Linked DNA regions of Homo sapiens. The protein of the gene in region 1 interacts with the protein of each later gene in a pairwise test. Each region holds a gene or a part of one and is shown on either strand. Other genes may lie near its edges.

Evidence for each region. Proteins that work in one complex are often made in the same cells at the same time.
Region 2: the proteins of KLHL32 (region 1) and PARVG interact in a two-hybrid assay, tested with the Homo sapiens proteins (one large-scale study listed by BioGRID).

Annotation. Positions count from the first base shown.
Region 1 is NC_000006.12:96,923,209-96,926,959, forward strand, and holds the start of KLHL32 (kelch-like protein 32), read left to right. Parts: upstream 1-1,519; 5' UTR 1,520-1,818; intron 1,819-2,206; exon of another isoform or gene 2,207-2,253; intron 2,254-3,751.
Region 2 is NC_000022.11:44,187,324-44,190,974, reverse strand, and holds part of PARVG (gamma-parvin), read right to left. Parts: intron 3,200-3,651; coding exon 3,097-3,199; intron 1,862-3,096; coding exon 1,721-1,861; intron 425-1,720; coding exon 309-424; intron 1-308. UniProt on the Homo sapiens protein: Plays a role with ILK in promoting the cell adhesion and spreading of leukocytes.

The DNA of each region.
Region 1 (3,751 bases):
TAGATGGGCTTAAAATTTTAAGTATTCTCACTTTAGTGACAAACACCTTGGGGATCTTAAAGGACTGTTTTATTTATTGATACCAGTCACTGTCAATATTTTTGGTTCAAAGACGCTTTCATATTCGATTTTCTGATAGAAGACAACGCAATGAAAACTATCAAGTTGCTTATGAAAAATTCTTAGGATGACACTGCACCTAATGTTTGTAGTCAGTTGTTTGTCATTCTTTCCCTTGTCCTATGCTGTGTCCAGGACTGCTAGATAAGTAGGTACCCAGCATCCTAGCGTCCAGATATCAAAACCATGAAAATGAAGCACTACAAGCCAGACAGATAACCTCCAGAGGGAGCAAACGAATAAACCCCCAAATCCTGTGGATCTAGAAGTAGAAAATAATCGCTGAACCACTGATTTGAGACCAATGAGAACATTAAGGACACCTCAAAATAGATCAGGGCACTGTTCCTAGCCCAACTCTGTGGCAGAACATAAACCTGCAAGAAATAGGATTAACATACTATCTTTGCAGTAAGTTAAATCCTGAACTTCTACAAAATACAGTTTACTCCAATTTAGTTACACTCTTCCTGCTTCTGGTGTCTTACCTCCACGTTGGACTAAGGTTTTCAATTCGGTGGTGGAATACTTACCTATTAAAATTACCCACTTTGCTTTAGTGTGAGTTTCTCAGCATGTTTTACACAGGAGTGACCTGAATGACTCGGAAGTGGCACTTGAGTGTGCCAGGCCCTGGAATTTAATGGTATGGTTCTGTGGTTGTTGTCTGTTTGCGGTTTTATTGCTGAATTAGTAGTAACCACAGTAATCACACCCTTTCTCATTTCTCAGGCTTGGGGATTTCGTCCACCTCTGGCGGGTTGGTTCCCCTGACGTTTCTTAAAGTTACTGTGAATTTGTTCTGGTCAGTACCATAGAGTGTATTATCCTAAGGAGGGCCACTGTAGGGCCGCTAGGACTAGAGGCAACTTGAACTTCACAAGTTAGCAGAGCAAGGACTCCCTGGAACACCGAGTTAGGGCCACGGGGTCTGTTTGCTCAGATTGCCCGCCAGCCCTGGGAAAGGAGTCTGGGGGCGAGCAGGCTGGGTTCCCGGGTCTCAGTCGCCGCAGTGGTGGCTACAGACTGCGCATGTGACCCAGGGGCCGGCGACGCAGGTGCCGGAGAGCGAGGAGGAGGGCGGCGTGGAGGAGGGTACTTCCGGGACCGGCGGGCGCGCGCTGGCAGCTCGCCGACGGCGGGGGCGGGGGCGGGGGGCGGCAGGGGAGCGAGCGCGCTGGCGGCGGGCGGTGGCGTTGCGCGCGGGGTGGCGAAAGGATGTGCGCGGGATCGCGGGGGAGGGGGAGGGAGCGCGCGGGCTAGCTGGAGGCGGGAGGGGGCGGAGCCCTGTGGCGTCTGAACCCGCCCCGGGGGTGCCAAGGTGCGTCTCCAGTCTGACGCGACCGCCTGGGGCGGAGTCAGCGGGACGTGCCACCTGCAGTGCTGGCTAGGGCTTTTTATTTACTAGGGAGCAGTTTCCCCGCGCGACAGTTCGGGAGCGCGCAGGCAGTCGCGCGCACACACGCACGCAGGCACACACACACACACACACACACACACACACACACTTTCGCACACACAAACACGCTAGGACGCTCGTCTTCGCTACTGCATCCCCGAACCAGCAGAGCGAAGCTACTGCGGGTTCTGTTAACCTCAGCATCGTGGGGCGAAGCAGAGCCATTGTGCATCAAGGAGAGGCCGGTGCCTGCGCTGCCGTCTCTGGCACCTAACCCAGCAGACCGCTCACCCCATCGGGTAAGCCAGTCTCTCTCCTTGTAACCTGTTCTGCAGACCTGAGGAAGAGGGTGGGAGGCTGCTGGTGCGCCAAGTGGGGGCAGACCCGGAGTTGACATTTCAGGGGCTTGCAGCCCATGCAGCCTCTGCCCGTGTCGTCTAACGGGAGCAGCCACTACTCAGGTTACTTATGCTGCCAGCCCTGGAGTCGCTCCCCCTTTCTTCCCTCCCCCTGAGCCCAATATGTACTGTGCTCCTTGGTTGCCAAGGAGACTTGCTTAAACATCAGCCGTGGGACATCTATTGAAAGAACTGGTTTCTTAAATGATGCCGTTATTTATTTTGATATTTAAAATAAAATATACACTGAGGACCTTTCGTAATTTGGCATTTGTTAATCTGTATTCAGGTGGCGGTTTCATTCAACTTCAAGAAAAGCCGTAATTGCACTATATGGTATGCTTTAAAAAGGATTCGTCAGATGAATTTTTCAACGGATTGTGTCTTGAATCATAATTTACTCCCATTTTGGTGATCTTATAAAGAAAGATGACTGCAGTTTAGATCCCTTCTTCCCCTCTATTTCCAGTTTTATTTTGCAGTTCACTTAGTCGTGATTATTTTAAATTAAAAGCAGATGATTTAATTGTGTTTCCCCACACAAGAATGAGCTTCTATTGTAAATTGACCAGAACAGGAATACGTTTGTGAATTCGTAACGTAAGAAGGTAGCATTCATGACATACATCTTTGCTAGCATTTTTATATCCCCTGCATCAGTATTGAAGCGCAGTTTTTTGCACCTCTGCTCATTTCTGAGAAGATTCTGTTTTTTAAAAAATCTCTTATTGATTATTTTTAGATCTATCTCTATACACAGATAGAGATAGATATAAAATGTGTGCCATGGCTTACTAGAGCTTATATGAAAGTGCAGTGGTTTTTGCTTTTTGTTTTTTTTCTGATGGGACTGGGTCCTCTACTGGAACACTGATAGGCCAATGGAACAGGTCAGCCTAATACCTGGGCTGTCAGTTTTGTTTTATTTTGAGGTCTCGGGTGTCTATTGGGTGAACTTGTAACACAGTACTTGAAGGCATCAGCAATCCAGTAATTACACTTTGCACGAATTTCATGCCTCCATCACAAACAAATGGCCCAGTAAAGATCCACTGGCATTCAAGAATTAATTTTGTTTTCCTTGGATATTTGTTCATCTTTTCTACTTCTTGTTAAATGACCCAAGGAAATAAGTCAAATTCTTCTAATTTAGATTTTAAACTCTGTCATAGAGAGTGTAATAAATAATGTGAGGAGCAAGTAAGCCAAATAATGACAGAGGTAGATAGAGGGGATTTATGCAATTCACAGAGCTTTGGGAGATGAATGATGACAAACATTTTACATTACAGTGTAGAAAGCACTTTTCATATACTTCTTTTTTAATCCTCACAACAACCCTTTGAGGCCAATAAATTACCTTCCATTTAAAGCTGAGGAACCCAAGACTCAAACCTTGCTGAAGGTCACAGCTAGTGAATGGGGAAGCCCTTTCTGGATCCAGTCTCCTTGCCTTTAAAAAAAAGTTGTGTGTGCGTTTCAGATGTGTGCAGGGATCTGACAAGTGAGATAAAGGAGTGGAGCAGGCCTAGACAAGACACGTGGGAGAGAGGGTAGGGAGTGGAGTGTGAACTGTGGCCTCTGGAACTTGCAAACCACTGTAAAGGAGGCAGCTCCCACTCCACTGTAGCCGATTGTTACTGTCCAGGCTCTAAAACATGACAGTTTTTTAAGGAAAACAGAAGCTTCTGGATTTTTTTTATGAGGTATCCTTAATTTTAAAAACTGTAAGGACCACATTAAAAATTGTATCTGGGTCATATCTAGCCTGTGGCCTGCTAGTTAGCAACCCATAATTACTGATGTCTCACTCAATTATAAGTTAGTATTCTCT
Region 2 (3,651 bases), on another chromosome or scaffold:
ATGGCCTGACAGCCCCTGGCCTCAGCCTCTGCCAGCCAGATGCCCTCTGCTGAGGTCAAGTGGAGCTGGCCAGCCGTGGACCTCCTCATGCCCCCAGGCCTCCGCCAGCCCCACTAGACCCTTACCAGCCCGTCCCCAGCTCCAGACAGCACCCCCTGGCCATCCTGGCTGGATTCTATTTCTCAGGGTTCCCTGAAACTCACCCTGGGTCAGCCCCGCCCCAGCCAGCTCCACCCATGCAGGGTACGGCAATGGGGGCCCAAGAGGCTCAGCTTCTGCTTACAAATCCCTGGGGCCCAGGCTGCTACCTCGATAGTGATGACCTCCACCTGGACGTTGGTTGGGAGGGAGAGGTCGGGCTGGAAGCGCTTGGCCAGGGCCACAAGGAGGTGCAGGGTAGACAACAGGTCCTTGTTGAAGATGCCTGGGAAGAGAGTGGAGACAGGTCAGAGCCCAGGAGGCCGCCAAAACGTGCAGCCAAATGGAGGCTTCCTCACTGTCAGAACAACCATCTGCAGACCAAGGAGGTCTGTGTCCAGCCTTCTGGAGAGCAGAGATCTGGAGATACGTGTTCAGAACCTAAAAATCATCACACTTCACCCCATCATCTCACTTCTTAGAATATAGCCCAGGGGTATGATCTACCTTGTGGAAGGGGCTCTAGACACAAAGATGTTTACTGCAGCACTGTTTACAATCGGAAACAACCAAGTGACCTCTGGGAAGGCACTGGCTGAACGATCATTAGATTTCAGCTGCATGTGACTTAATTCAGGGTTGATTTCATCAACATCAATTACTGATTGTGAGACCTTACAGGCTGCGAATGCAGGCGCATGGGACCCAACAAAACCTGGGTTTGAAAACGGACTCTGTTAAATCCTCACCGCCCAACCTTGGAGAAGCTGCATAATTTCTTTCAGCCTCAGTTTTCTCATCTGGGTGGGGTGGGGGGATATGGAGAATTGAAGGGAAGGAAATCTATACCAAACTGTGAACCAGGTGGGGTGGGGAAGTCTAGGTGTTTGGCACGCTCTCTTGGTTTTTGTGTTTCTTTGATAAGGAGTCTCACTCTTGTAGCCCAGACTGGAGTGAAGTGGTGCAATCTGGGCTCACTGCAACCTCTGCCTCCCAGGTTCAAGCGATTCTCCTGCCTCAGCCTCCTGAGTAGCTGGGATTACAGGCACCGGCCACCACGCCCAGCTAATTTTTGTATTTTTAGTAGAGATGGGGTTTCACCATGTTGACCAGGCTGGTCTCAAACTCCTGACCTCAGGTGATCCACCCGCCTCGGCCTCCCAAAGTGCTGGGATTACAGGTGTGAGACACCACACCCGACCAGGCACACTCATTTTTTGTATAAGCAGGCCCTGCAGATATTCCAATACTTTAATGAAATGAGAGTGTGGATGGGCGGACCACGGTACTTGGAACTCAACAGTGGCTGTCATTCAGATAGCAAACAGAGACTGTTTGCTATCCTTGGGCTGCACTTTGCAGCAGTAACACCCTCTAGGGCACAGATGTGTGCTGGGCTGTTGGCTGCTCAGCCAGATGCCTGACTGTGGCTGCCTGAGGCTTCTACCTCCTTCCTGACTCCCAGGTTGTACCCCTGCTGGGAGAAGGATGAGTGCGCCTTCCTGGTGGGTGAGAAGCCTGAAGCAGAAGGACCCCAGCGGCCCCACACTCCCCAGGGGTAGCCAGGTTGTGGCCCACGTACTCTCCACGCTCCACTTGGCCTGCCACTCCTCCAGCTGCAGACTCCGGTTCACGGCCTCCAGCACCACTGTGAGCTTGTGCTTCTGGCTTGTGGCTGTCAGGGCGATGTCCTCTGCTTCCAGCTTGAGCGCCGCCAGCCTCTCTGGAGGCAGGAGAGGGTGGTGAGGACCCCTGGCCGGGGACAGACCAGAGAGCACCTCAGGGACCCTCCAGGAGGCTGAGCCTGCCTGGTGCTTCAGGGAACATGGGTCTGGAGAGCCCATTCTTGGTGTTGGACCGTGGGCCACACTCACAGCCTCAATCGGGTATGCCCTCCAGCTTCCAGGAGACCCTCATCTACACAGAACAGGATTGGTGGGCCATGCAGGCCACATGATGTGAGCAAGCCTCAGCCCCCTGAGCTGGTTGAGAGAGCCCACCTCACCTTGATCAGCCTGTGCCTGCAGCCCCTGCCCTTCTGCACAGCTGTGTCCACTTCATCTCTGCAGGGCAGTGTGGCCTAGTGGTTAAAGCCTACACTCCTAGGCTTCTATCCTGACCCCCCTGCTTCCCTAACCATAAGACCTTGGAGAAATTATGAGGCCTCTCAGAGGCTCCCTTTCCTCATCTGTGAAATGGGGACAGTAACAGCACAGGGCTATTCTGAGGATGAACTGCACCTGCTACATGGGACATGCCCGGAAGTGCTAGCCGCATGAGTGGGATTGTGCAGCCCATCTCCAAAGAGCTCGGCGAACACTGCAGAGGCTGGCCTCAGGCGAAGTGCTGAGGACATGGAATTGGGCCTATCTGTGGCCTCCGAGACCACAGTTGTGTGCAGAAGAGATGCGTAGACCAGACATGACCATACAAGGACAAAGGAGAGGGTGACTCTGGGGCTTGTGGGGAACACTTGCCCGGGACCAGGAGGAGGCCCTGAGAATGCACATCCCCTGCAAAGCCCCTTGGAGCTTTCCAGACTGAGGAGGAACACGGAGACAGGAGCCCAGCCCTGCCCCCAGCCACCCAGGACTGCCCGTTTTCTCTCTAGCAGCCTAGGGCAGCCCGAGGGCAGGGATCATGGGTTCTTTTGTTACCTCCCAGCACCTCAAAACAGCAGGCACTCAATAAGTGTTAGAGAGGCAGTGTGGTGTGGTAGAAAGAGCACCAACCCTGGCGTCAGAGCCCCACCCTGAGCCCCAGCTCGGCCCCCTCACTCATGGGCTGTGGACAGCGCCTCCATCTCCCCAGCCCAGGCCCATCTAGAAAGTGAGACAGGTGTCCCTAAACCCGGGACCATTGTGGGGACTGAAGGAGAGAGCCTACCTGTGGGCCCTGGAGGGGCCAGGTCAGGGGGATGGGGCCGAGGCCCAGGCAGCCCCAGAAACAGCCACTTACGGAATAGGTGGTGTAGGATGAGCCCGTCGAACATGTCCTCCTCCAGGCTGCGGACCACAATGTGCTCGGGGAGAAGAGTGGCATTGATCCACTCCATCAACACCTGCAGGCTCCAAGGGGACAACTTTTGGGGGGATGGAGACTTCTCACCTGGCCCTCCACCTGGCTCAGAATGCCTGCCTCTCGCCTGCCAACTCCTACCCATCTTTCAAGGCCTGGTCAAATGTCACCTCCACTGGGAAGCCCTCCTTGATCTCCCAGGCTGTTAGGGGCCTGCCCCAGGTTCCTGCAGACTCCCTGCTTCTCTCCATCACAAACCTGAGCAGTGTGGGGCTGTCATTATCATGTGTGAGGTTTTAGTACCAGGAAGTGGGGTACTACCATAGCAAATACCCAAAAATGGGGAAATGGCTTGGGGAATGGAAAGAATTGGACAATGAGCACTTGATAGAAAAAGCCTAGATTGCCCTGAAGAGGTGGTCAGTAGAAATATGGATGTTAAAGGTGCCCCTTCTGAGGTCCTAGGAGGAAATGAGGGACATGACATTGGACGTG